Linked DNA regions of Homo sapiens: all the other regions are linked to region 1. The links come from fine-mapping of genetic effects on gene expression. A gene starts in region 1. Each other region holds a variant in brackets. All regions are shown on one strand. Distances are from middle to middle. Region 1 holds the start of LMBR1 (limb development membrane protein 1). Region 2 overlaps LMBR1 (limb development membrane protein 1). Region 3 overlaps LMBR1 (limb development membrane protein 1). Region 4 overlaps RNF32 (ring finger protein 32). Region 5 overlaps LMBR1 (limb development membrane protein 1).

Region 1 (6,067 bases):
AATAGTGCTGAAGCAATTGGACATTCCTGTGGGAGAAAAAAATATGACTCCTACCTTGCACCAGACACAAAAAAATAAATTCGAAATAGATTGCAAATTTAAATGAGAAGAGTAATTCAATAAAGCATTTAGAGAAAAGAAGAAGAGAACATCAGTCTTAGAGTAAGGAGAGATTTCTTAATCGGGACATTAAAAGTACTCAAAAAAATTTTAATAAATTGAACTATATTAAAATTAATAATTTCTGTTCATCAGAAGATATCATTAAAAGTGAAAGGCATCCACAGAGTGGGAAAGAAATATGTGCAGTATATATTTCTGACAAAGAAATCATATCCACCTGTATAACAATATAATACAAGTTATTCTGTAAAGACCTTGCAAATCAATATTAAAAAGATAAACTTAATTTTTAAATGGGGAAAAAAATTTGACCCTTCACAAGATTTCCAAATGGCTAATAAACAAACAGGTGCTCAAATTCATTAGTTATCAGGAAAATGCAAATTAAAATTATTTGTATGATGAACACTATAACACACTTGCTAGAATGACTAAAATTAAAAAGGACAGAAAATATCAAGTATTGATAAAGATGAGTAACAACCACACCTCTGAGACTGTCAGTACTGGCGGAAGTGTACACTGGTACAACCACTTTGGAAAATTGTTTTAAAGTATCTACTAAAGATGAACAAATGCACACTCTTTAACCTAGGGATTCCATTCCTAGGGCTATCCCCAACAGAAATGCACAAACATGTCCACCAAAAGCTATGTACAAAAAGTTCATAGCCAGCCCGGCGTGGTGGCTCATGCCTGTAATCCCAGCACTTTGGGAGGCCAAGGCAGGTGGATCACCTGAGGTCAGGAGTTCAAGGCCAGCCTGGCCAGCATGGAGAAACCCCGTCTCTAATAAAAATAGAAAAATTAGCTGGGTGTGGTGGTGTGTGCCTGTAATCCCAGCTATTCAGGAGGCTGAGGTAGGAGAATCACTTGAATCCCGGAGGCAGAGGTTGCAGTGAGCCGAGATTGTGCCACTGCACTCCAGCCTGGGAGACAGAGCGAGACTCCATCACAAAAAAAAAAAAAAAAAAAAAATATATATATATATATATATATACACACACACACACACACACACACACATATATACATACACATATATATACACATATATATATTCATAGCCAAAACCTAGAAACTACTGAAGTGCCCATCAACAGTAAAATGAAAAATAAATTGTGCTATAGTCACACAACTACTGCACCGAGAATGAATTATAACCACATACAACATGGAGAAATTTCACAAACATTGTACAAGAAACTGGACACAGAAGAGTATATACGGTAAGATTCCATTTACATAAAGTTCAAAACTAAGCAAAAACTAATCTATGATATTAGAAGCCAGGGCAACGTTTACCCTTGGTGGAGGAGAAAGTAATTGGAAGAGGGAAAGGAATCAGTCTCTGGGATCCTAGTAAAATTGTGTTTATTTATTTATTTTTTTATAATGGTAGAGATGGGGATTCACTATGTTGCCCAGGCTGACCAGTCTCAAACTCCTGGTGGATTCAGGAGTACACAGGCGTGTTTAGTATGAAATGATCTGAAGGGTACATGTATGATTACATGAACTTATCTCTGTGTATTTTAGCTTCAATTATAAAAATTACAACTAAATGTGTACCAAATTCCACTAACTCAAATTCCACCAGCTCAGACTTTATATGTCCTCTTTATTCAAAGTATGACTTCCAAAGTGATTCTCAATTTTCAAGATCAGTGAGTACACAAATTAGATAATTCTAAAGCAGAATTTTTTCACCTCAAACCAAGTGTGACTGAATCGTAGACAACTTAGGAGAGGCGTAAATATAAACATAAAAAATTGACATATTTTACAACAGTTATGAAAACACAGATAAACCCAATTACAATACATTCTAGAGCATCATGAAAAGATAAAAACATCAAAGTAGACTTTCCAAGGTCAAGTCCGCTTCCTGACTCCTGCCAACAGCACACATGGAACATGGGCCAAAAAAGAAGCTGCTTCCCTAAGAAGTTGCTTCCATAGCAAAATGGACTTTTGCTGAGGTCCTCACTCCCAAAAATAACCAATATTCTCATCCCAAACGGTAAGGTTTCGAACTCAACCCACGTGGGGGCTGGGGGAGATGAAAGAGGGATGGAAACGTGAGGCGCCAGGAGGGCAGGAGGTGTTGACCGGGACAAGGTAACCGGCCGGGTCCAAACGCGAGAGGCGGGCGGGCTCCGCGCAGCCCGGCCCTTCCCGGACCCGCCGGGCCCACCCAGGCTCTCCGGGACGCCTGCGCATCCACCTGCCTACCTGGCCTGGCGGCGGAGCGCGGGGGCGCGCACTGGCGGGGCCGCCGTCCACACCCCGAGGCGCGAGCCGCACACCCGCCCAGAGAGGAAGCCCCTGGGGTCCCAGAGCGCGGCGCGCACCGCAGCCCTCCCCGCGGGAAGGGAAGGGCAGCACCGAGGCCGCGGGGCGGGGGCGGGGTCGGGGCTCGAACGGAGGGAGCGCGAGGGGGCAGGGGAGGCAAGAGCGGAGCGGGGGGGCAGGCAGAGGAAGCGAAGGGGAGGGGAGGGGAGAGGAGAGGTGGGGAGGGAAGGGGAGGGGAGGGGAGAGGAGGGGTGGGGAGGGAGAGCGGCAGAGGCCGGGGCGGGAGGCGCGAGGCGAGGCCCGGAGGTGAGGGGTCCGGGGACCGGGGGCCCGGGGGCGGGGACGGAGGGCCCGGGCGGGCACGCGGGACTGTCAGGGCTGCCTCGGTCCCCACGCACCGTGGACTCCCGCACTTGGCTGTGGAAGTGCTGCTCCCGCGCCGACACCTCGTCCTGCCCTTCCATCCTCCTTCATGCCCGCCGCCGCGCCGCCCGCGTCCGCGTGCTCCGCCACACCATCGTCCGCCCGCCGCAGGGGCTCGGACAGCCGCGCCGGGGACCGGAGCCGGCACGGGCCCGCGAGCCGTGTTGGAACAGGTACCGCGACCACGACACCGGCCGTCGCCTCAGCAGCCTCAGACGAGCAGCTCTGACTAAGGGAGGGCGGGCGCCGCGCAGTCGGGGGCGGGGCGGGGGCGGGGCAGGGAGGGGAGGGGGCGGTGCAGGCATACGTCAGACGAAAGGCGCCGATGCGTCAGAAAAGCGCGCCTCGCGGTCTTCCGAGCTGCTGGGCCGGGAGGCGCTGAGGGGGCGGGGCCTTGAGGTCGCGGGGCGGGGCTCCGCCCACGCTCTCAGGGGCTACCCCAGTTAAGGAGGCGCTGTCCTGGCGTCGGATGGGGACGGGGAACGCGGCGAGGGCGCTGCGACCTCTGCCCACCTGGCCCGGCCGCAGTCTCGGAGTTCCTGTTCCTCACAGGAGCTAATTATTTATGACAGCTGCATGGTTCCCCTCCCCCAGTTACTCAGTGCTTGGCACTCGGCACCCCTTACTCAGCACTCAGTACCGCACTCGGCCTCAGGGGACCTGGGCAGAGGGAAGCAGGGAGTCTCCCGCGGAAACTCTTGCTCTGCCAAAGTAGGTTGAAAGGTCGGAAATCGGTGGTTTGGGGCCGGGCTTTGGGCGGAAACCCAGCTTCTCTGGGTCTGAGAAGGGTCTTGGGCTGCCCCACCTGGAAAACGCAGATAACCGAGCTCGCTAGACCCTTGCCAAGTCCTTCCGGTAGCTCGGTCACTAGGGTCAGTTTTATGACTCTCAGTGGACCCTAAACAGCACGTAATATATGTATTTTTCACCGCCAAATATATCAAACACAATAATTCACCCTCCGTTCCCTATTATCTTTCTTTTTGTTATAAAATTTGAATTTAAGGGAATGTTTATAATTTTACCTTAGGATTTATTTGGCTACGAGGAAGTCATTTAAATTGCTAGTGGCTGCGATTTTTGTTTTTGGCATCTTTGAGAATTCTTAGGAAGTGTGAAAATCTACAAATTGCTTTCAAATGTCATTTAGTTTTTGTTTTTGTTTTTTTTTTTTTTGAGACAGAGTTTCACTCTTGTCGCCCAGGCTGGAGTGCAATGGCGATCTCTGCTCACAACAACCTCTGCCTCTTGGGTTCAAGTGATTCTCCTGCCTCAGCCTCCCGAGTAGCTGGGATTACAGGCGCCCGCCACCACGCCCAGCTAATTTTTGTATTTTTAGTAGAGACGGGGTTTCACCACGTTGGCCAAGCTGTTCTTGAACTCCTGACCTCAGGTGATCCGCCCACCTCGTCCTCCCAAAGTGCTGGGATTACAGGCCTGAGCCACCGCGCCCGGCCGTTGTTTAGATTTTTATGAATCTAAATTTAACAGTCAATGAAGTTGTTGTAAAGTTCTTCAAAGACAAATATGTGGTAATTTAAACCTTGCCGTTTCTCTTCACAATTTTGAGTAGAGAAAATTTTTTCACAACTCAAACTTCTTATGGTGCTTGGCGAAGTTGGAGGCCCCGACACACGGTTTCTATGAGTTCACTATAGCTGAACATTGTGGTGGTGGGAGAACTTAGAGAACCTGAGGCTTGTTCTCAGCATGTGCCCTGCTGCCACAGGCTGATTGATCATAATCCAAGAACAACTGTCAACTGGTTAAATTCAACGTTCACCTTTATTTTTTAGAATGTCTTGGAGCCCTAAAGAACCTGGATAATTTCTGGGTTAATTCTCTCCAAATCAGAGGGCAAGCAGATTAGATTTTAAAGTGTATGGCATTTAAACACAGATTCCAGAAAGTGAATGCATGTAGTATTCCTCATCTTTTTAATGCAATACTCCAACCATCTAGACCTTTTGATTTTCTTTTATGCAATCATCCCTAGAGGTTTACCCACCACTGGTACTTGTAACACTTAACCCAGGGTAGTCAACTTCAACAATGGCCACGTACTCACCACTCCCTATACGCTCACCCTCTGCCATCTGGCTTTGTCCTTCCTCCCAGCAAGAAATGGACTCTACTTTCCAGCCCTGGAATCAGCCTGGCTGGGTGACCTGCTCTAGCCAGTGGGACATTGAAAAATACAAAACTATAGGAAAGTGCTTGTACATTAGGACTTGCCCTTTCTTACGGACCCTAGGGACCCTCAATGGCCACTGGCCACTGCATCATAAGCCCCAGCCCAGCTGAAGATAGGTGACCTGGTCACCTCCATCACCCCAGCCAACACCCTCTTTCCCACATCCCTAAACGCTGTTGTATAAGACCACATGGGCCATTGTAACGGCTTTGGCTTTTATTCTGGGAGAGGTTAGGAGCCACTGTGGGTTATTGACAGGTGTGATGTGATCTGACTGCTGCTCAGGGCCTGGACAGCAAATGAGGAAGACTTATTGCAGAAATTCAGAGCCTAGTGACCTGGACCAGGGTGGAGGCAGCAGAGGAGGTGAGAGGCGGTCGGTTTCTGAATGCATTTTGAAAGGAGGATTTCCTATCAGGATTTCCTATCACATGGGGATGTGGTCAGAAAAAGAGAAAGACAGGGAGGGCTCCAAGGCATCTGCCTTAGCAGCCAGAAGGACAGTTGCATCACCAAAGGGGGGGAAGGCTGCAGTTAGAACAAGTTTTGGAGAAAAGACACAGAGTTCTTAAAATGTGATGATGACACCTCCTGGCCACCAAGATATGCTGTGTGGATATGAAGTTTCATTTCATATCAGAAGAACATGGCTGGCAATAAACATTTAAAAATATGTTTCATCTCAACAATACCCAGGACATGCAAATTGAAACCTAAATGAAGTACCTTTTCACTTTCATTGGGTGGGCAAAATTCTTCTAATTTGACAATATTGAGTGTCACAAGAATGTGGAACAGTAGAAATTCTGTGCCACTGGAGGTCGTGTGAACCAATATGATATCTCTGTAAATAATTTGGCATTATCCAGTAAAGCTGAAGATAAGCAACTAGCAGTTGCACTCCTACCCATGTATCCTAGAAAAGCTCTTGAGCATGTACACCAAGAGATGTGAATGAGAATCCCCACAGCTGTGCCACTTGAACTAGCAGAAGTCTACAAATAGCCCAGCTGTCTATCCACGGTGGAATGG
Region 2 (6,067 bases), 120 kb before region 1:
TACAGACCCCCCTGAGCATGCAGGGGAACTTTAGGAAGCAGACGGACTCAAACTCACGGCTCTGCTGAGTACAGGAGCCCACGTCACCATCCTACCTGGTCCTTCACAAAGGACTGTGAAGTGACTGCACGGAATTGTTGGTGAACAATGACAAATTTTTTCTAAATAAAGAGAAATATAAATAACGATATATATAGTTATAAACTAAAATGCAATGCCAAAAAATATTTTTGAAAGATAAATCATTTAATAATTTTTTATTATCTTATACATTAAGAAGTGACATTCAGATGAGAAAAAAAGAGTTAAAGAAAAAATTCCATTTTAAATAGGGGTCATTTAAAACGATAATATTTCACTTTTTACTGACAGCAGAGAAATTAAAGTTAAATAATGCTACTAAAAACTTAAGGTTACCACTAATCTTACTAGTATCAAAATAATAAAACTAGTAACAGTAATAGTAACTAGTATCAAAAGTAATATTACTAAGATACTAGAAAACAGAACAAAAATGTAATAGTTAATATAGTAAAAAACAGAAAATCAAGTTTAGCAAAATATAAACATAACAAAATATATAAAATACGAAAACAGGAAATGATAAAAACCAAATATATCTACTATAACTATATATGCAAATTAGGTCAAAAAACACAATTAACTGTCTAAGACCTATCAAAACGAAAGTGATACTAAAAAAAGTGAAAATGATTAAAAATTATTGTTTAATTTTTTAAAAATGTACAGGAGTCTGGTTTAAATACAGAAGAATGCAAAACAAAAAACATTAAATGGGATAAAGTAGGACATTTCATATTGAAGAAATTTACTATCCACTATATTATTATGTTCTATTTCTTTAGATTAACTGGTGAGTACATAGCGCTTCATTGTTATTATTCTTTATACAATATTTAAATAAACAGAAAACGAGGCTGGGCACAGTGGCTCACACCTGTAATCCCAGCACTTTAGGAGGCCAAGGGGGATGGATCCCTTGAGGTCAGGAGTTCAAGACCAGCATGGTGAAAGCCCGTCTCTACTAAAAACACAAAGATTAGCTGTAATCCCAGCTACTTGGGAGGCTGAGGCAGGAGAATCGCTTGAACCTGGGAGGCGGAGGTTGCGTTGCAGTGAGCCAAGACTGCACCACTACACTCTAGCCTGGGCAACAGAGTGACTCGGTCTCAAAAAAAAACAAAAAAGTAAATAAATAAATACAACAGAAAACCTTTATTCATTATATTTAGCATGTTTATGCAAATTTGATAAGAAATTCATTTAGAATTTTAAAAATAAAAAATTCCTAAGTATGCCTCCATTGTGATGGGCTGCCACCACTCAGTGAATACCATCAGCTTCTGATGCAGCCAAAGGTCAGAGAGCCCAGCCTCGACATTAGGAGGGCTCAGGGGATTGAGGGCCTAACTGGGTGGTTTGGCTTCAGCAGTGGATTAGGAAATAGGGTTTCCCCCAGGAGGTATCTGCCACTTTTTCACATGAAACCTTGATACCAGGTAGCGCCAGGCAGGTTGAGCTCTGGAAGAGACCATTTTTATTTGGCTAGGAGGCCTGTTAAGCTTCTTCCATTTTACTGGACATGGAATCTAAATTGTTCCACCCCAGAAGAGGGATGCCAGGCTAGAGAGTCACATGGCCCCACAGGTTGGGTAATCCATTTCAACAAGAGCTGAGCAGCAGATTCACAGCTGTCCTTTCTCAGGAGTCCACTCGGAGGCAGTGGCAGGCAGGAGAGGCACCTGCTATTTTAGGAAATGGCCTCCTGGAGTATTTGTGAGCTATTAAGTCTCTCACAAAAGCTGAGATATTCGCTTCTCCTCCTGGGGCCCTATACTGTTTATATTGGGCCAAAGGGAAGGCACAGTCCCTGAGGCCAAGCTTGCATAGTATGATCATGTAAAACACGAATACCAATTTAATATAGAGTCAGCAGTGCAAGCTACATCACAGATGGAATAAGCCCAAACACCCTACTCAAAAAGTCACCTGATGCCAGGCTCAGTAGCTCACACCTGTAATCCCAGTGCTTCAGGAAGCTGAGGCACCACTCATTTCAGGACTGAGACTCCTTGACTCAGCAGCCACACCCATAATGCCTTCTGACTGGAGCTGGGGGCTTACTGCCCTGGTGTCATACCAACATTCCTTCGTCTTACAACAGGAGAGGAATGAACGACAGCCAAAGCACCATTCAGACTCATTACAGGTAGGAGTAATGTAATTACCAGGGGCCCTTCCTCCTCCGCCTCCCTCTCACCACTGAGTTGAGCACATCCACCACCAGATCTGAAGGTCTTTTCATATCACTAAACCTGGAATACAAGGTCCTTGTTCTT[T/C]CTCTGCACCATCCAATCTCATTGCCAAAACTGTCAGGTCTGGGGTCTGGTTCTATCCTTACAAATTAATAAGTTAGCCTGTTGCTGTTACATGGATGCTGGCAGGAGACACAAGACTCCTGGATCAGAAGCAAAGGATTTTATTACTCCGGTACAGCAAGAGGCATGAGTGCCAGCAGGTCATTTCCCCTGCTCCCAAGTCTTATGGATGGATGTTGCATATGCGACAGATCTGTGCAGCAGCTAAAGAACAGTGAGCGTGGGGAATCCACTGTTTTCACAGCACGTGGTAATAAGCCAGGCTGCTCTGTGGCCCAGAGGGAGCCATCACTTCATCCCTCAAGTTTGCTCAGAAGAAACACAACCCTAACAAATGGCCCAGGTAAAGAGCAGTCAAGACCTCACAGTCTTGGCACACCCAGAAAGAAAACGCAGGAATGCTTACGGCCCATGCAGACCGCCTCTCCTGACACACCACTCTATCAGTCTGTGACTGCCCAAGAATGAAAAAATATTAACAATGATACACAGAATCTGAAAAATAATAACAAGGTTGACTTAATAAACCTAAAGTAATCCCTTATAGGGAATATACCTCTATTTCAATCACTAAAGGAAAATTTACAAAAATGAATTTGAAATTAAACTACAAAAAGTATGTCTATCTTTTTTTTTAAGATGAGATCTCACTATGTTTCCCAGGCTGGTCTCTAACTCCTAGGCTCAAGTGATCCTCCCATCTCAGCCCCCTGAGTAGCTGGGATTACAAGTGCGCACCACCCTGCCCAACAAAATATATCAAGTTCTAAACTGCATCAGAACTACTGCATTAACAACAGAGAATAAGTCAAAATATCTGAATGCAAAAAATTAACAACAAAGCTTAAATTAAAATACACTAATGCAATCATAGGCCAACTAAAAAGTAACAAAACAAGAATACTTTATAAAAACATAAAGTGTAGAAAATCTGTATTCAGATGCTCAAATAAATGAGTTTTATTATGAAAGAAAAAATAAAAATAAAAATGAAGCACTCAACTCAAGAATTTGTAAAAGGAACAACAAAATAAATCCTAGCAAACCACAATACAGGAAGAAATAGGCCAGGCACGATGGCTCATGCTTGTAATCCTAGTACTTTTAAAGGGGGAGGCAGGAGGATCATTTGAGCCCAGAAGTTCAAGACCAGCCTGGGCAACATAGCAAGACCTTATCTCTAACAAAAATTTTAAAATGAGATGGGCATGGAAGCACACACCTGTAGTCCCAGCTACTTGGGAGGCTGAAGTGGGAAGATCACTTGAGCCCAGGAGTTTGAGGTTACAGTGAGCTATGATCGCGCTAGTGCACTCTAACCTGGGCAACAGAGTGAAATCCTGTCTCAGAAACAAATAAATAAAACAAAATACAACAGGAAATTAAAGTAAGTATAATAAAAAAGAGCAAAAAAGTAGGAAAAAATAAATCGAAGAATTCAGAATTCAAAAGAATTCTGATAAATGTCTGGCTAGAAAAATCAACAAAATAAAGTAGCAAAAACACATTAGAAATATGAAAAAAATGTAATCAAGACATAAGATTTTAAAAAGAATACCAAGTATAACTGTCAATAAATGGGAAAACAAACGACTTGAGGAACTAGAAAAACAAGAGCAAACCAACCCCAAAGCTACCAGAAGACAAGAAATAACCAAAATCAGAGCTGTTCTGAATGAAATAGAGACACGAAAAACCATATGAAAGATCAATGAAACCAGGAGTTGATTCTTTGAAAGAAAAAATAAGGTAGATAGACTGCTAGCTAGACTAATAAAGATAAAAAGAAGATCCAAATAATCACAATCAGAAGTGACAAAGACGGCATTACCACTGACCCCACAGAAATACAAAAAACCATCAGGGACTATTATGAACACTTTCATGCATACAAACTAGAAAACTTAGCAGAAATGGATAAACATACAAACATTCCGGGAAACATACAGCCTCCCAAGACTGAACCAGGAAGAAATTCAAACCCTGAACAGATGAATAATGAGTTCTGAAACCGAGTCTGTAATAAAAAGCCAACTGACTAGAAAACGCTCAGGATCAGATAAATTCATGACCGAATCCTATCAAATATTTAAAGAACAGCTGGTACCATTCCTACTGAAACTATTCCAAAAATTTAAAAATAAAGGACACCTCCCTAACTCATTCTATGAGGCCAGCATCATTCTGATACCAAAACCTGGCTAAGACACAAAAAGAAAAAGAAAACTTCACACCAATATTCTTGATAAACACAGATGCAAAATCCTCAACAAAATACTAGCAAACCAAATCCAGCAGCACATCAAAAAGCTAATCCACCATGATCAAGTAGGCTTTATCCCTGGGATGGAAGGTTGGTTCAACACACTCAAATCAATAAATGTGATTCATCAAATAAACAAAACTAAAAACAAAAACCACATGATCAGCCAGGCGTGGTGGCTCATGTCTGTAATCCCAGCACTTTGGGAGGCTGAGGCAGGTGGATCATGAGGTCAGGGGTTCAAGACCAGCCTGACCAACATGGTGAAACCCCGTCTCTACTAAAAATACAAAAATTAGCCAGGCATGGTAGCGCAAGCCTGTAATCCCAGCTACTCAGAAGGCTGAGGCAGGAGAATCACTTGAACCTGGGAGGCAGAGGTTGCAGTGAGCCAAGATCGTACCACTGCACTCCAGCCTGGGTGACAGAGCGAGACTCCATCTCAAAAAGAAAACCACATGATCATCTCAACGGATGCAGAAAAAGCTTTCTATAAAATTCAACATCCCTTCATGTTAAAAACTCTCAACAAACTAGGCTTTGAAGGAACATATGTGAAAATAATAAGAGCCATCTTTGACAAACCCACAGCCAACATCATATGGAACAGGCAAAAGCTGGAAGCATAGCCCCTTGAGAACCGTAACAAGACAAGGATGCCCATTCTCACCACTCCTATTCAGCATATTACTGGGAAGTCCTGGCCAGAGCAATCTGGCAAGAGAAAGAAATAAAAGGCTGGGTGTGGTGGCTCGCACCTGTAATCCCAACACTTTGGGAGGCCGAGCTGGGTGGATCACCTGAGGTCAGGCATTTGAGACCAGCCTGACCAACACAGTGAAATCCTGCATCTACTAAAAATAAAAAAATTAGCTGGGCGTGGTGGCAGGCACCTGTAGTCCCAACTACTAGGGAGACTGAGGCAGGAGAATAGCTTGAACCCGGGAGGCAGAGGTTGCAGCAAGCCGAGATTGTGCCACTGCACTTCGGCCTGGACGACAAAAAACGAAAAGAGAAGAGAGGAGAGGAGGGGAGGGGAGGGGAAGGGAGGGGAGAGGAGAGGCATTCATATAGGAAGAGGAAGTCAAATTATCTCTGTTTGCAGATGATATAATTTCATATCTAGAAAATCCCATAGTGTCTGCTCAAAAGCTGCTGGATCTAATAAGCAATGCCAGCAAAGTTTCAGGATATAAAATCCATGTACAAAAATCAGTAGCACTTCTATAGACCAATAACATCCAAGAATGGCCACAAAAAAATGAAACAAAATAAAATAAAATAAAATAAAAACCTAGAAATACAGCTAGTCAGGGAGGTGAAAGGTCTCTACAAGAATTAAAAAACACTGCTCAAGGAAATCAGAGATGACACAAACAAATGCAAAAACATTCCATGTTCATGG
Region 3 (6,067 bases), 90 kb before region 1:
ACTGGAAGAAGACGCCATCTAGGACTTGCATAGCCAGAGACAAGTTCAATGTCTGGCTTCAAAGCTTCAATCAACAGGCTGACTCACTTGTTAGGGGCAAATACAGAAAGTGACTTTAAGTTGAAGCCAGTGCTCATTCACCATTCCAGAAATCCTAAAACCCTTAAGAATTATCCTAAGCCCATTCTGCCTGTGGTCTATAAACAAGAACAACAAACCTGCCCGGATGGCAGCACATCTGTTTACAGCATGGTTTACTAAATAGTTTAAGCCTACTGTTAAGACTTGCTACTCAAAAAAAAAAAAAAAAAAGATTTTCAAAATACTACTGCTCATTGACAATGCACCTGCTGATGGAGATGAAAGAGCCCTGGTGGAGATGTTTAAAAAGATCAATATTTTCATGCCTTAACACAACATCCATTCTGTAGCCCATGGATCAAGGAGTAATTCTGACTTTCAAGTCATATTATTTAAGATACATTCTGTAAGGCTATACCTGCTACAGATTCCTCTGATGGATTGTGCAAAGTAAACTGAAAACCTTCTGGAAAGGATGCACCATTCTAGATGCCATTAAGAATATCTGTGATTCATGGGAGGTCAAAATATCAACCTCACCTGGAGTTTGGAAGTGATGGGTTTGAGATGTCAGTGGAGAAAGTCTCTGCAGATGTGGTAAAAATAGCAAGAGGACTGGAATTAGAGGTGGATCCTGAAGATGTGACTGAATTGCTGCAATCTCATGATAAAACTTGAAATGAACGAGGAGCTGCTTCTTAGGGATGAACAAAGAAAGTGGTTTCTTGAGATGGAATCTACCCTGGTGAAGATGCTGTGAACATTGTGGAAATGACAATAAAGGACTTAGAATATCATAAACTTAGTTGATAAAACAGAGGCAGGGTTTGAGAGGATGGACTTCAATTTTGAAAGAACTTCTACTGTGAGTAAAATGCTGTCAAACAGCATCACATGCTACACAGAAATCTTTTGTGAAAGGAAGAGTCAATCAATATGGCAAACTACACTGTTGTCTTATTTTAAGAAATTGCCACGGTCACGCAACCTTTAGCAAAATCAAGGCAAGACCTCCACCAGCAAAAAGATTACAGCTCACTAAAGGCTCAGATAATTGTTACCATTTTTTAGCAATAAAGGCATGTACACACATTGCTATTGCACACTTAATAAATGGCATTATAGTGTTAAGTATAATTTTTATATGCTCTGAGAAATCAAAAAATTTGTGTGATTCACTTTATTGCCACATTCGCTTCATCACAGTACACTGGAACCAACCCTGCAGTATCTCCAAGGTATGCCTGTCACTGTTAGGTATGTAACATAGTAGGCATTGTTCTGGATACGTTAAGATGCTATCTTTTTTTCTGAGACAGTGGTGTGATCATGGCTCACTGCAGCCTTGACTTCCCAGACTCAGGTGATCCTCCCGCCTCAGCCTACCAAGTAGCTGAGACTATAGGCACATGCCACCGTGCCAGGCTGATTTTTGTATTTTTTGTAGAGATGAGGTTTCACCATGTTGTCCAGTCTGGTCTCAAACTCCTGGGCTCAAGCGATCCACTCACCTCAGCCTCCCAAAGTGCTGGGATTACAGATGTGAGCCACTGCACTCAGCCAGCTACCACCTTAATATTTTATGAGGGAAGGTCCCCCGTTTTACAGACGGACTTCAGGTTCAGAAACGTGCCCTTGTCCCAGAGCAAGAAAAACTTAAGCTATTCCTTCTAATATGCTGTAATGTTTTTAGGCAACATAAATTCCACCATTTCCTAACCTTTTTTTTTTCAGATGGAGTCTCACTCTGTTGCCCAGGCTGGAGTGCAATGGCGCAATCTCGGCTCACCGCAATCTCCGCCTCCCGGGTTCAAGCGATTCTCCTGCCTCAGCCTCCTGAGTAGCTGGGATAACAGGCACGCGCCACTGCGCCAGGCTAATTTTTGTATTTTCAGTGGAGACGGAGTTTCACCATGTTGGCTGGGCTGCTCTTGAACCCCTGACCTCAGGTGATCCACTCGCTTCGGCCTTCCAAAGTGCTGGGATTACAGGCATGGGCCACCACGCCTGGCCCCTAAACTTCTTATATTCTTTAGAGATGCTTGCAAATGTATGATTACAAATCTCTAGATCAAAGGTCCATGAGGCATGAATATATTTCTACACCTCATTTTTTATTTCCCAATGCCTGCTACAGTGCTGAGTAATCAATAAAAATGAGTTCCATAAACAAACAATATTACAATCCATATAGCTAAATGTTAACAGGAAAAGACTCTCTCAGGAAAAAGGTCACAGGCTGAACTAAAGAAGTAGTCTCAGAATTAATTCTCAATTGTCAGTACAAAATGAACAAAATTATAACATATACAAATATAAGAAATATTAATTTTTAACAGCTTTATTGAACTACATAAAATAAGCTACACATGGAGTATATAATTTGATAAGTTTTGTCATGAGAATGCACCAATGACACCATCACCACAATTAAGCTAATGAACATAAACACATCCATCACCCCCAAATTTTCTCATATCCTTTTATAATCCCTGCCCCCTGCCACTCCCCACCTCCC[CCT/C]GATTCCCAGTCAGCCACTGACTCTGCACTTTAGAAAAGAACTCAGAAATAATGCCGCATGTCTACAACTATCTGATCTTTGACAAACCTGACAAAAACAAGAAATGGGGAAAGGATTCCCTATTTAATAAATGGTGCTGGGAGAACTGGCTAGTCATATGTAGAAAGCTGAAACTGGATCCCTTCCTTACACTTTATACAAAAATTAATTCAAGATGGATTAAAGACTTACATGTTAGACCTAAAACCATAAAAACCCTAGAAGAAACCCTAGGCATTACCATTCAGGACATAGGCATGGGCAAGGACTTCATGTCTAAAACACCAAAAGCAATGGCAACAAAAGCCAAAATTGACAAATGGGATCTAATTAAACTCAAGAGCTTCTGCACAGCAAAAGAAACCACCATCAGAGTGAACAGGCAACTTACAAAATGGGAGAAAATTTTTGCAACTTACTCATCTGACAAAGGGCTAATATCCAGAATCTACAATGAACTCAAACAAATTTACAGGAAAAAAACAAACAACCCCATCAAAAAGTGGGCGAAGGATATGAACAGACACTTCTCAAAAGAAGACATTTATGCAGCCAAAAAACACATGAAAAAATGCTCATCATCACTGGCCATCAGAGAAATGCAAATCAAAACCACAATGAGACACCATCTCACACCAGTTAGAATGGCGATCATTAAAAAGTCAGGAAACAACAGGTGCTGGAGAGGATGTGGAGAAATAGGAACACTTTTGCACTGTTGGTGGGACTGTCAACCCTTGTGGAAGTCAGTGTGGCGATTCCTCAAGGATCTAGAACTAGAAATGCCATTTGACCCAGCCATCCCATTACTAGGTATATACCCAAAGGATTATAAATCATGCTGCTATAAAGACACATGCACACGTATGTTTATTGTGGCACTATTCACAATAGAAAAGACTTGGAACCAACCCAAATATCCAACAATGATAGACTGGATTAAGAAAATGTGGCACATATACACCATGGAATACTATGCAGCCATAAAAAAGGATGAGTTCATGTCCTTTGTAGGGACATGGATGAAACTGGAACCCATCATTCTCAGCAAACTATCGCAAGGACAAAAAACCAAACACCGCATGTTCTCACTCATAGGTGGGAATTGAACAATGAGAACACATGGACACAGGAAGGGGAATATCACACACCGGGGACTGTTGTGGGGTGGGGGGAGGGGGGAGGGATAGCATTAGGAGATATACCTAATGCTAAATGAGGAGATGATGGGTGCAGCACACCAACATGGCACATGTATACATATGTAACAAGCCTGCACGTTGTGCACATGTAACCTAAAACTTAAAGTAGAATAATAATAAAATAAAATAAAAAAAAGATGGATTTTCTAGAACATTATACAAATGGATTGTGTGATATATACTCTTGTTTTTGTCTGGCTTCTGTTATCTAGCACAACTATTTTGAGATTAGATTGAATCGCTATTGGACTGCATCCATTCACCTGCAAACAATCTATGTTGTTCCCAATTTGTGGCTATTAAAAATAAAATAGTCATAAATGCTCATGTACAAGTCTGTGTAGACCTATGCGATCATTTCTTTTGGGAAATACATAGGTCATATGGTAGATACCTGTTTAACATTTTAAGAAACTGCCAAAATGTTTTCCAAAGTGGTTGTATTTTACAGTCTCTCACCAGCAGAGATCAAGTTCATCCACATTTTCACTAAAAATAATATTTTAACCATTCTGGCAGGTACACAGGAATATCTTATTGCTGTTTTAATTCCCATTTATCTAATAAATAATGATGTGAACATCTGTTCATGAGCTTATTTGCCATCTATTCATGTCTTTTTTAGCTAAGTATCTCTTCAAATCTGTTGCCCATTTTTTCATTTTTTTTTAATTACTGAGTTTGACAAGTTCTTTATGGGCTCTGAATACAACTCCTTTATAAGGTATGTGATTTGTCAATATTTTCTCCCAGTCTGTAGACTCTCTTTATTCTCTTAACAGTATCTTTAAAGAACAAAATTTATTAGAAGTCCAATTTATCCATTTTTTTCTTTTATGGATTGTGCTTTCGCTATCCTACCTAAAAAATTATGGCCTAGTTCAATGTTACAAAGACTTTCTCCTACATTTTCTTCTACAAGTTTCATAGTTTTAGGATTTACATTTAAGTCGATGATCCCTTGAGTTACAGTTTGCGAATGGTGCCAGGTATGGACTGAAGTTCATTTTTTGCCTATAATTAAAAAATTGTTCTAGCACCATTTGTTTAAAAAAAAATCATCTTCCCACTAAATTCCCTTGGCACCTTTGTCAAAAATCAATTGACAATATATGTATGTATCTAATCCTGGACAGTCTATTCTGCTGATTTGATCTGTTTATCTTTATGCTAACATCATGCACTTTTTTTTTTTTTTTTTTTTGAGACAAAGTCTTGCTCTGTCATCCAGGCTGGAGTGCAGTGGCACGTCTCGGCTCACTGCAACCTCCGCCTCCCAGGTTCAAGCGATTCTCCTGCCTCAGACTCCCAAGTAGCTGGGATTACAGGTGCATGCACCACACCAGGCTAATTTTTGTATTTTTAGTAGACACAGGGTTTCACCATGTTGGTCAGGCTTGTCTCGAACTCCTGACCTCAAGTGATCTGCCTGCCTTGGCCTCCCAAAGCGCTGGGATTACAGGCATAAGCCACCGTGCCCAGCCACACCACACAGTCTTGATTACTGTAGCTTTAAAAGAGTCTTTAGGTCAGATGGTCAATCCTCTAACTTTGTTATCTTTCAAAGTTGTTTAGGCTATTCTAAGTCCATAGAATTTGCATCCGAATTTTAGATCAGCTTGTCAATTTCTACAAAGTATGCTGGAATCTTGACAGGCATGGTGTTGAATCTCTATCAATTTGAAGAGAGCTGACCTCTTAATATTGCTGTTACAGACTGAATGCTTCTGTCCCCACCCCCAAATTCATAACTGAAACCCTAATCCTCAGTGTGATGGTCGTTAGAGACAGGAGCCCTTGGGGGTAGTTAGGTCACAAGAGGGCAATCCTCATGATGGGATGGTGCCCCTATAGGAGGAGACAGAAGAGAGTTTGCTTTCTCTGTCTCTGCTCTCAGCCATGGAAGGATGCGAGGAGACAACCATCCGTGAGCCAAGAATAGGGTCCTCATCAAGAACCCAACCATGGTGGCACCCTGATATGGGACTTTCAGCCTCCAGAACTGTAAAAAATATTTGTTTTGTATTGTAAGCCACCCAGTCTATGGTATTGTTATAGCAGCCCAAACTGATAAAGTGTCTTCGAATCCATGAACACAGTATCTGTCTCCACTTATTGTGGTACTCTTTAATTTCTCTCAACAATGTCTTAGTTTATAGTACTTAGGTCTCACGCATCCCTAAGTATTTCGTATTTTTGATGCTATTGCATATAAGTGATATTG
Region 4 (6,067 bases), 220 kb before region 1:
TCTAGATTCGGGGGTGCCTGTGCAGGTTTGTCACTGGGTGTACTGCAGGACGCCGATGTTTGCGGTACAGGCGGTCCTGTCGCCCAGCTCATGAGCACAGTCCCCAACAGTTAGTTTTTCAGCCCGTGTCCCTCCCCAGTCGTCCTAGTATCTCATGTCACCATCTTTATGTCCACGTACTTGAAGAAACTTAAGTCGTGTAGAGTATGTTCCCTGACCACGGTGCAGCTGAGGCTAGAAATAAATTTTTTTTAAAAAAATAGAACTATCTCACGTTTGAAAATAAACGGTTCTAAATAACGTATTAATCGAAGACAAAATTATAATGGAAATGAGAAGAAATTTCAGTTGAATAGCAAAAGTACATATCAAAACTTGTGGAATGGAATATTTCATCAAAACTTGTGGAAAGGAATATTTGCGTCTGCCATGCTAGGTTTTCTTCTGTGGAATCAAACACCTGAGTGTGGAATTAGTTTGTGATTCTTATGTATATTAAAATATCCTAAGCATTTATTTGCTTTCTTGCTATATTACACCAGTTACCATTAAGACTGGAGCACTAAGTGTTAAGGGCCACCCTCCCTGAGATTTATTTGGTATATATGCAAAACTGACAAGTCTGTTTCTTTCAACAAGTGCCTACTATGGTCGGTGCGTGTACTGAGCTCTTGAGAGGGTTTAAAGGCAGGGTGTGACGACGACAGGTGCAAAACCCTTTAAAAACCCTGGATGCTATTACCAGCGTTAAGAACAGTCCTGGCCCCAGGACTAATAAAGGAGATAGGACCTGTATGCCACAGTGACTGAGGCAGAAGGAGGCAATAGGTGACATCAGTATTGGACCTCAGGGTCTTTGTCATCAATAGGGCCACTTAGGAGTCACCCAACACAGTTGTTCAGAGCATATGAGCTCTATTTCCATCTAAAGTGTTTGAAGGAAAATGTACTTTAAAAAGTCCTAATGATGCTGTCTTTGGAAGTTTATCTTGAGCTAAGTAACTCATTTATGTAACATCAGGACAGCTGGGATTGCTCCAGGCATCCTGTAGAGAGAGCGATACACTCACGTATGATAGAATATATGCACACACAGGTGACACTGTAACATAAATGCATATAGATGTACATACATATTTATATGTGGCCCGCACACTTACTCTGTTCCTCTCTCAAGTGGCTTCTGAAAGCGCACGCACAGCGATACCCATGCTTGGAGTTGGGAGGTGACACCTCCAGGAATGATAACTAATGCTGTGTTAAATAACTTTGCATATTTAAAAATGTGATCGGTAACTTCTATGACCGTGGTTCTTAAACCTGAATGGGCCTCAGAATCACCTGGAGGGCTGTAAAGCATATCGCAGGGCTCACCCCGCGGACTGTGGCCTCGGCAGGCCCGGGGCAAAGCCTGAAAAGCTCTGCTTTTCTCACAGATTCCCAGGAGCTGAGGCTGCGGGGTCTGGGCCCCACCTTGAGAATAAACACCCAGATCATATCGATCATTTCATTCAATTGATCAGTCATTCCAAATAGTACTTTTATGTCCAAAACTAATCTCAGAACATACCTCACAAGTTGAAACACTTTGCAAGGTCTGGACTAGAATGTGACCCTTTTTCTGAGGTATAATTTTGAAGGAAGAAAAGATCTTGCTTTTCAGGCATATGTGGAAAGTATCTCACACTTAAAAACAATTTACAGAAAACCTGAATTACAAAGCATCAATTGGAGGTAACTGTGTATATTTCCAAGTAATTTTTCCTTTTACAATGTATAGAGAACTCTTCTACTTTCAATAATTTATTTAGATATTATTAGATATTTGAAAGGCCAAGGAATAAAGAAAATTAAAATTAAAGCCTTAGGAAACGTTACCGATTCAAGACCCTAAATTAAGATACAGCTGCTTGGCAATTATAATTACATTCAGAGTGAAAGAGAATTTGACTCATAAATAGAAAAGCAGCTTCCACCAGGCTTCCAAGTACGGCTAATCCCAAAACACAGGTGCCTGGAAGATCCTCAGCCACCCCCTTCATTCAAACCCCAACCCTTGTGGACTGCCTGCTGTGTTCACAGAATGTTCTTTACTCAAAAGGACCTCTCATCCTTAAAGCCAATACTCATTCTTCTAACATCCCAGGGAGAAAGGCAGCTCATAGTCTCCACAGCACTCGACCCTGCGCTGTCTCACGATCTTTTTGCAGAAGGGAGAGAATTGGAAGAGAACTCCATGTCCTCAAAGGCACCTTCAGAAGTCTGGTGATTTAAATACACACTACGTTCTGCCAGGTTGCTCCACATTAATAAAAAAAAAAAAAAAAGAAAAAGTGAACGTGAGGACTCCAGTAGACTAGAATATTTGAAACCTGGACAGTCATGGACCATCCAAAATGCATTTTCCCCATCACATATCTAAATGTGTGAGATCTCCACGGGACTTGTTCATTTCATCCTTCTTTGTGCTTCAAGCCGGATTCCATGAAGCAGATGTAACTGCTGAATCGGCACTTCTCACTGCTGGACAAATAACCCCCCGAATTTCAGTGACTGAAAGCCAGAGCTTCGGTCTCATAGGACAGTTCAGGTGTCCTGGCTTGCAGGCAACATGCCAGCCTGTGGGGCTCGGGAACTGTCTCCCTCTGCCCTTTATCTGCCACCCCCCGGGCCTGGAGAACACCCAGAAGAGACATGAGCCACGTCCATCTGGAAGAACTACTTCACGTGGCCCCACCTGGGCATGGGGGAATGGGAAATGTCATCTCTGGGTGAGCCACAGCTCTGTACTTGAAAGGACAAGCAAGAGGGCAGGAAGTGTGGCTGACAGTCACCATTGGCACAACCTTTTACACACCTTATTCTCCTTTGCTTTACACTCTTCACATGTACTAAAAAGGAGCCGCTGGTGTGGCCCTGAATGAGCCACCTACCC[G/A]TGCCTCAGATGACACTGGTGGCCACTCTGTAATGACTCAGACCTTTCTAGTGTAGGATGGCTTGAGCCCGGGAGGCCGAGGCTGAGTGAGCATTGATGGCCCCAAGCACTCCAGTTTGGGTGACAGAGCGAGATGCTGTCTCCACCAAACCAAACAAAAATACCAAAAAAAACAAAGTACTGTATTCAATTAATAAACGTTGAAGTGATAATATTTTGGATCTGTTGGGTCAGATACAATATTAAAATTAATTTCACCTTTTAAAAAACTTAATGTGACTGCCAGAAATTTTAAAATTACATACGTAGCTCACAGTATGTTTCTATGGGACAGAGCTGATCCTGCGAAATTCGAACTTTTCTCTCAACTTTTAATTTCAAATGTGTTCCTGCTAATGGTCAAAGCTCACAACCAAGAAAACAGCAGGGGAGGGAAACAATATACCCTTTTCCCCTACCCTCCTAAATTCTTCAGCTGGAGCCCTGTAAGTTAAGCTTAACGAGAAAATTACACGGATTTACTTAGTAAGTCCCATGTGGTATGGAAGCCTTCCTAAGGCAGCGCAGACCGGAAGAGATAGTGCAGACCCGAAGAGGCAGCGGCGACCCGAAGGGGCAGCGGAGACCCGAAGAGACAGTAACGCCTGAGCGCTTTCTATGCTAGGTTGGATGAGGACACAGAGGTCGTGGGGAAGCATGACAGGACAAGGGGTGAGCTGAGGGTGGTCGGTGGGAACCACGGCAAGGCCTGTGTGCTGTCTCCTCCCGGCTCCCTCCGTCTTTGGAGACGAGGGTGCCTCTCACAGGAGGGTCCTGTGACCCACTTTAGGGGTGGGGAGAGGTCAGACGGTCCCTCCTGCAGCTGTCATTTCTCAAATTCCTTTGGGAAGGAATGTTTTTTCCTTAAAATATTCAGTATGCCAAGGTGCCGTATTTTGGGGTAGTGTGTTCTGGACTCCATCAGATAGGGGTTCTTGTGGTCATCTGTCCAGATTATCTGGATTTATAGTTAAGTAAAATAGACATATATCTATTTCCCTAAAAAGTATTATTCGAAGACAGAGACGAGGAAGGTTACCAAAATAGATGGTCAGGCTCGAGAGCGCTTCCCTGCAACCTCCACCGAGCTCAGGTGTGAGCTTACCCGCCCCCGCCTCCTCCTCAGTTCACAGAAATCAGCCACCGCATCCTGTGCTCATACAACACCAACATTGAAGAGCTCTTTGCAGAAATCGATCAGTGCTTGGCCATAAATCGAAGTGTTCTTCAGCAGTTGGAAGAAAAATGTGGCCATGAGATCACAGAAGAGGAATGGGAGAAAATCCAAGTGCAGGTAGGTTTGGCTGGCAGCCTGGCAACCAGCAGACTCAGCTGCAGCTGCAGAGGCTGTGGGGAGTGGCATGTGGGGGGAGGTCGAGGACTCACTTTGGGGAGCCTAGGAGTGTCAGGCCCGGGGTGCAGCCGTGGAGGCTGTGGGGGTGGCATGTCGGGGGAGGTCGAGGACTCACTTTGGGAAGCCTAGGAGTGTCAGTCCCGGGGTAACCGCTGCCCTAGCTGCCCCTGCACCTGTGGTAGGACTTTCCTCATGGGCTTTAGGGTGACGGCAAAGGTCCCTTCAGTTTGAAATTCTGGAAGTTCCTGTTGGATGTTGCTTATCACAGGTGGGTTACTAACCCTTTCCACAGTTCCCAGGAGTAACAGAGTATATGTGTGTGTATATATATATGTATATATATAAATAAAATGCATGTGATTTTAACACAGAATGAAACTTCCGCATGTTTCGAAGACCCATGTCTCGGGGCACATGGTTCGCATTTCAGTTTAAGTAACTTTCTGCTGTGATGAAACTAACCCGCGTGGCCTCTTCCCGTCCTGTGTGCCGCAGGCTCTGCGCCGGGAGACCCACGAGTGCTCCATCTGCCTGGCCCCTCTCTCCGCTGCTGGCGGTCAGCGCGTGGGTGCAGGCAGGCGTTCCAGAGAGATGGCCCTCCTGTCCTGCTCACATGTGTTCCACCATGCGTGTCTGCTGGCACTAGAGGAGTTCTCCGTGGGAGACAGGCCTCCTTTCCATGCCTGTCCTCTCTGCCGCTCCTGCTACCAGAAGAAGATTCTTGAATGTTGAATTCATAGTCAAGGAAAGTTAGGTAATTCTGAGGAAAAAAGTTTACCATCATTTTGGATGAACTGCATGAGTTCTGGGTTAAGTACTACAATGTAATCTGTTTCCCAGGGAAATAAGCTATTGGTAGTTGTAGGAAATCTTAGTATATTTTAAAAGCTGACATCCCACCTAATTTTAATCTTTGGTCTCTAAAAAGTAAATTTCAAATTTATGAGTTTAATCACTTCAAATATGAATAGCAAAAAATGAGAGCTTGCTTACTTCTAAAAATTGAGGTTAAGATATAGCTAGTGTCTGAACGACACTCCTTAAAGTAAGTTCCAAATGTAAAACACTCCTTAAGTTCCAAATGTTTTCCGCTAATAGTCTGTCCTAAAGCCTTTGCCATTCCTAATACTCGTTTTGTAATAATTGCTGTATTTCTGTGTAATAAAATATAAAAATAAAATATTCAGTGGTATTCAACATCAAAAAAGTGCAAATTTTAATGTCTTAGAGCAATAAAGACTGTTTTAGTTCACACATTTTAAAAAAAAGTGAACCTTTTTGGATAAGAATTGTTTTTGTCACTGGTTTACTATTACTGGGAGCTTGGTTATTTACAGTAACCAGTTACAGTCTCATCGGTTAGGTTACCCCTAGCCGAGTAACAGATAAAGCCCCAACTCTCAGTGGCTCGCTGAAGACACATGATTTCTGAGGTGTCCAACCCATGTCAGCCATGGGTGAGGCAGGGCGAGGGTACACCATGTGTGACCCTGGCTCCTTTTGTCTTGTGACACAGTCTCCTTTGCCCCCGAGTCCCCAGTGAATCCTGTCACTGCTGGTGGAGGGGCAGGAGGACATTGTTCCAGGCCATGCTTGGGAGTGGCGCTCATCACTCCAGCCACAGTAACTACAAGGGGCAAGGAAAGGGCAGGGTGTAGGCCTAAGAGGAAGAGGCCAAGTGGGTGTGCACATGGCATGGGCTCAGAATAACCCAGCATCTAATGTGAGAAGAAATGCCA
Region 5 (6,067 bases), 42 kb before region 1:
TGCAAAAGATGGAGTAAAGACTTAAATGTAAAACCTAAAACTATAGAACTCTGGAAGAAAACCTAGGAAATACCATTCTGGACACAGGCCCTGACAAAGACTTCATGACAAAGACACTAAAAGCAACTGCAACAAAAACAAAAATTGACAAATGGGAATCTAATTAAACTAAACAGCTTCTGTACAACTAAAGAAATATCAACCGTAAATGACAACCTACAGAATAGGAGAAAACATTTGCAAACTATGCATCTGACAAAGGTCTAATAAAAGCAACCCCACTAAAAAGTGGGCACAGGACAAGAAAAGACACTTTTCAAAAGAAGACATACATGCAGCCAACAAGCATATGAAAAAATGCTCAGCATTATTAATCATTAGAGAAATGCAAATCAAAATCACATCTCACACCAAGTCAGAGTGGCTATTATTAAAAAGTCAAAAAATAACAGATGCTGGTGAGGTTGCAGAGAAAAGGGAATGCTTATAAACTGGCTAGTGGAACTGTCAATTAGTTCAGTCACTGTGGAAAGCAGTGTGGCAATTTCTCAAACCATTTAAAAGAGAAATACTGGCTGGGCATGGTGACTCACCCCTGTAATCCCAGCACTTTGGGAGGCCAAGGTGGGTGGATCACTTGAAGTCAGGAGTTCTAGAACAACCTGGGATCATGGTGAAACCCCGTCTCTACTAAAAATACAAAGATTAGCTGGCTGTGGTGGCAGGAGCCTGTGGTCCCAGCTACTAGGGAAGCTCAAGTACAAGAATCACTTGAACCTGGGAGGCGGAGGCTGCAGTGAGCAGAGATCGTACCATGACACCGCAGCCTGGGCGACAAAGCAAGACTCTGTCTCAAAAAAAAAAAAAAAAGCAAAACAAAACAAAACAAAAACAGTACTACCATTTGACCCAGCAATCCAATTATTGGCTACAGACCCGAAGGAATATAAATCATTCTACCGTAAAGACACATACATGCATTATATTCTTCAGAGCACTATTCACAATAGCAAAGACATGGAATCAACCTAAATGACCATCAACAGTAGAATGGATAAAGAAAATGTGGTATGTACATACCATGGAATAGTATGCAGCCATAAAAGTGAATGAGATCATGTCCTTTGCAGCGACATGGATGGAGCTGGAGCTAGAGACCATTATCCTAAGTGAACTAACACAAGAACAGGAAACCAAATACCACATGTTCTCATTTATAAGAGGGGGCTAAATACTGAGAACACATGGACATAGGGAACAAGAGACATCAGGGTCTACTTGAGGATGGGAGGGAGAGGATGGAAAAACTACCAATCAGGTACTACGTTTCTTATCTGGGTGACAAAATAATCTGTACACCAAACCCCTGTGAAACATAGTAACAAACCTGTACATGTGCCCCTGAACCTAAATAAAAGTTAAAAATTAAAAGAGCTGTCAAAGCAATGAAAAGTCATGGAGGAAACTTAAATGCTTGCTGCTAAGTGAAAGAAGTCAATTTGAAATGGCAACATTTGTATGATTCCAACTATATTCCGGAAAAGGCAAAACAAAACTGTGGAGACACTAAAAGCATCAGTTGTTTGTTGCCAGGGGTTGAGGGGAGGAAGGAATGAACAGGCAGAGCTTAGAGAACTTTTAAGGACAGTGAAACTATTCTGTATGATTCTATAAGGTTAGATACATGTTCTTATAAAATTTTCCAAACCCATGGAATGTACACCACCAGAGTGAACACTAATGTAAACTATGGAATCTAAGTCATGATGTTCAACCCAAGGTCATCAACCATAACAAATTTTCCACTCTGGTGGGGGATGCTGATAATGGCCAAGGCTATGCATGTGTGGAGCCAAGGGATATATGGAAAAATCTCATTACCTTCACCCAATTTTGCTGTGAACCTAAAATTTCTCTAAAAAATAAAGTCTAATTTTAAAAAGTAATACGATTGCATTAGTGCTATGGTTTGTGTGTTTCCCAAAGTTCATGTATTTGAAACTTAATTCCCAATGCAACAGTGTTGAGGTGGGGCTTCAAAAGTGATCAGGTCATGAGGATTCTATCCTCATAAACTGACTAATGTTATCACAGGAGTGGGTTAGTTACGGTGAGAGCAGGTTTGTTATAAAAGCAAGTCTGGCCCCCTTCTTGCCCTTCTGCCTTCCACCATGGGATGATACAACACAAAGGCCCTTGCCAGATGCCAGCCCCTTGATCTTGGGCTTCCCAGCCTCCAGAATCATACACCAAATAAATTTCTGTTCATTATATATTATCCAGCCTGTGGTATTCTGTTTCAGTAGCACAAAACAGACTAAGACAGCTAGTAACAAATGTGTTTATTAAATTCAATGTCCTATATTCCTCCCACCCTGCTTAGACTCTT[G/A]TAACCACCAATCTACTTTCTGTTTTTATGTATTTGCCTATTCTGGGTATTTCATATAAATAAAATCATACAGTATGTGCCTTTTTGTGTCTGGCTTCTTTCACTTAGCGTAATGTTTTCAAGGTTCATCCATGCTGTAGCATGTAACAATAGTTCTTTCCTCCAGACATTTTATGAGAAAAACCTCTGTTTCATTAAAAACACATTGGGTATATTTTTGCTTGCAGCTGAAAGCATTCCTTTCAAATACAATTGTATACCCACACAAGGATGTATATATAAAGATGTTCACTTTTCTATTGTTTGTAATTGCAACAAATCACCCTTTGAAATGGTTTGGATGTGTGTCCCCTCAGAATTTCATGTTGAAGCGTGATCCCCACTGTTGGAGGTGAACCCTGGTGGAAGTGTTTGGATCATGGAGGCAGATCCCTCATGAATGGCTTGGTGCCCTCCCCTTGGTGATGAGTAAGTTCTATTAGTTCACACAGGATCTGGTTGTTTAAGGACTTTGGCACCTCCTTTCTCTCTCTTTATCCATTCCCTCTTGCTCCCTCTCGCCATATGACACCCGCCACTTCACCTTCTGTCATGATTGGAAGCTTTCTGAGGTCTTCAACAGAAGCAGATGCCGGCAATATGCTTCTCAAAGAGCCTGCAGAACTGTGTGCCAAAATAACTATCTTTTCCTTATAAATTACTCAGTCTCAGGTATTCCTTTACAGCAACGCAAAATGAACTAACACACCCTTCAAAACAGAGAAGTAAACAAAATTACCAATGCCCTATCTTCAGAACAATTAATTTGAATACAATACACATGCTGATACCTACTCTTCTCATAGTTGCTAAACTGTCATAATAAATTGCCCTGTGTCTTTCAACTTGTGCTTCAATAAAGGCAAAGCAATGCTTCCTCACAGAAAACACTAAGACCCTTAGCAAGGGGTAAATATTCACTTTTTCAAGATTATCACAGCATATTTCAAGTTCATTAATGTCATCAATAATATTATACTTTAATACAACATGCTGTGAAATATTTTAGGCCCAGTAACAAGAATGGACGACTATACACCAGATTACTCTTCCTACTGGTTTCTTGAGGAGATGGTAAAGTTGGGGGGCTGGGGAGTGAGGAGAGAAGAGGGTAGAAATAAGTCATGATTGTAAGCCAAAAACAATGGAGAGAGAAAAAGTAAAGATACTCGCACATAAAAACAGTAAACACATAGTGACTAATGTAAAATTATTTAAGTCGTATAGATATACATAGAGGTATGAAACAATGTGCTTATTTCAGAATGGTGGAATTTCAGATTATTTTTACCCTTTTACCTTCTTCCTTAGATCTATGAAAAAATTAAAGTTTTAACAATAAGGACTTTTATTTACACAGGATGAAAGTACTATTTTCAAAATGAACACAATAAAATTTATTCTAATAACCTTTCAGGAAAGCAATATGATGGCCTATGTATGCACTCTGATTCAATACTGTTATTCCTGGGAATTTATATTACAATAAAGAAACATTCCTCCACTTTTAGATAATTAGGTTACCATTACTACTACTAGCAACAAGAATCACAATAATAGCTGCCACTTGAGACTTTAAGAACACACCTCTAGGAACAAAGTAATATAACAAGTAATAAAGATTTCGGTCCAGGTCTCAAAAGGGTAACCAAGAGAATAACAAATAATAATATAACAATAAACACCAGAGGAAATGGGAAAAACAAAGTAGTGTGAATACTCACTACTGTAGTGTAAATCCTATCAGAAAGCTAGTAGTTAAATCCTCAGTGTCTGTATTGGGAAGTCAATATACGTGTTCAATGTTGGTAAGCCAACAAATATTACCAAGCATTACAGAAATCACTTAGAAAAACTAAAAAAAAATAAGAGATTGCTTATGGAAAATACTTGGATAGGAGCCTTATTCTTCTTAAGGTTTCCTGTACTATCTGATGGATAGCATGTTTCTATACTATCTGATGCATGCATTAGATTTAAAAAATTATAGGCTTCTACACCCCTGACACAATAATTTTCAAGTAATCCTTTAGAGATCTATCTATGATTCTCACTTGGAGTTTTACGTTATTTGGAAAAGTAACACCAAATAAAATCTTTACATTATTGCCTTTTGCTAAACAGGGTTGAGACCTATGATTCTCAACTGAGGGTGACAATGTCCCCCCCAGGAGACATGTTGCAATGTCTGGGGACAGTTTAGTTGTCACAACCAGGTGAATCGTGCTACTAGCATCTGGGGTCAGAGAACAGAGATGCTGTTAAAATCCCATGATGCACAGAACAGACCCGAACAATAAAGAACAATCTGTCCAGAATGTCAACAGTGCCAACGTTGAGAAACTCTGTTTTAGATTAACTGCCAAAAAAGTACAGAAGATAAGCACAGAAGTAATTACATATACAACATAACTTGAACAGTAAATTACAAATAATGCTTTTTTTTTTTTTTGAGACAGAGTCTCAATCTGTCGCCCAGGCTGGAGTGCAGTGGCCCGATCTCAGCTCATTGCAAGCTCTGCCTCCCAGGTTCAGGCCATTTTCCCGCCTCGGCCTCCCAAGTAGCTGGGACTACAGGCACCCGTCACCACACCCGGCTAATTTTTTGTATTTTTAGTAGAGACGGGATTTCACTGTGTTAGCCAGGATGGTCTCGATCTCCTGACCTCATGATCTGCCCGCCTTGGCCTCCCAAAGTGCTGGAATTACAGGCGTGAGCCACCGCACCCGGCCGAATAATGCTTCATTTTTTATTGTAAGTTGCCACAGTAGAAAATGTTAATACTAATTTCACTAATATATTGTAATAAGCACATTCCTTTCTCTTTTAAAAAAAAATGGGTCACATAAAGAAATATTAGCCAGATTAAGGGACAGATCATTCCAAACTACTTAATGTTAAAAGAAAAAAAAAAGCACTATCCCTTATGATCTCACACCCTGTGCTTTAGAAAGAAAAACATTTACACTAATTTTTGTCATGCCATCCAAAACTGTATTTAAAATTAAAAGTAAAATAGAACCACTTTCTAAAAGTCCTAGAATAACTTCTCTGGATTAAATCTATGCAGAAACTGGGTATCAAATGAAGATTCTCAAGCAGCTGCCAAATGATGAACCCAAAGGAAGTCACCACATAGAATAAAGCTTTTGTTTGTTTTTGTTTTTTGAGACAAAGTGTCATCCTGTCACTGAGACTGGAGTGCAGTGGCGTGATCTCAGCTCACTGCAACCTCCACTTCCTGGGTTCAAGGAATTCTCCCGCCTCAGCCTCCCAAGTAGCTGGGATTACAGGCACCTGCCACCACACCCGGCTAATTTTTGTATTTTTGGTAGAGATGGGGCTTCATCATGTTGGCCAGGCTGGTCCCGAACTCCTACCTCAGGTGATCCACCCACCTCAGCCTCCTAAAATGCTGGGATTACAGGCATGTGCCATCGTGCCTGGCCCACATAGAATAAAATTAAAAAAAAAAAAAAAACCACCTATATACATCATATGCCATACACTAAAAGCAATCTTCAAGTAAATCAGACATAAAGGTAAAAGATAACATAGTGGCTTCTGGCTTCCAGTCCAACATGAAAGGAGCTTGGAAGTCATCTTTCCCATCCTCGTAACAAGAAAAAAACTGAACA

The links.
Region 2: its variant is fine-mapped to the expression of LMBR1 in whole blood (INTERVAL, PIP above 0.99).
Region 3: its variant is fine-mapped to the expression of LMBR1 in blood mononuclear cells (TOPMed, PIP above 0.99).
Region 4: its variant is fine-mapped to the expression of LMBR1 in whole blood (INTERVAL, PIP 0.96).
Region 5: its variant is fine-mapped to the expression of LMBR1 in esophagus mucosa (GTEx, PIP above 0.99).

The regions. Positions count from the first base shown.
Region 1 is chr7:156,890,112-156,896,178 of GRCh38, forward strand. It overlaps LMBR1 (limb development membrane protein 1), which reads right to left and starts at 3,072. Exons shown (of 17, transcript NM_022458.4): 1 at 2,817-3,072. The coding sequence starts at 2,882. It overlaps LOC102723795 (a long non-coding RNA gene), which reads left to right and starts at 3,287. Exons shown (of 4, transcript XR_928253.3): 1 at 3,287-3,552; 2 at 5,321-5,401. RefSeq lists silencers at 2,164-2,663, 2,714-3,293 and an enhancer at 5,596-5,675.
Region 2 is chr7:156,767,168-156,773,234 of GRCh38, forward strand. The region is part of intron 5 of LMBR1 (limb development membrane protein 1); the gene reads right to left. Among named protein-coding and RNA genes, the nearest start is that of RNF32-AS1, 110 kb to the left of the region's middle. RefSeq lists an enhancer at 1-990. The variant T/C (reference allele first, on the strand shown) is at 2,361.
Region 3 is chr7:156,800,189-156,806,255 of GRCh38, forward strand. All of the region lies in intron 4 of LMBR1 (limb development membrane protein 1), which reads right to left. Among named protein-coding and RNA genes, the nearest start is that of LMBR1, 90 kb to the right of the region's middle. The variant CCT/C (reference allele first, on the strand shown) is at 2,600.
Region 4 is chr7:156,671,596-156,677,662 of GRCh38, forward strand. It overlaps RNF32 (ring finger protein 32), which reads left to right. Exons shown (of 9, transcript NM_030936.4): 8 at 4,101-4,268; 9 at 4,824-5,535. The coding sequence ends at 5,060. It also overlaps a transcript of LMBR1 not described here. Among named protein-coding and RNA genes, the nearest start is that of RNF32-AS1, 15 kb to the left of the region's middle. The variant G/A (reference allele first, on the strand shown) is at 2,936.
Region 5 is chr7:156,848,077-156,854,143 of GRCh38, forward strand. The region is part of intron 1 of LMBR1 (limb development membrane protein 1); the gene reads right to left. Among named protein-coding and RNA genes, the nearest start is that of LMBR1, 42 kb to the right of the region's middle. The variant G/A (reference allele first, on the strand shown) is at 2,390.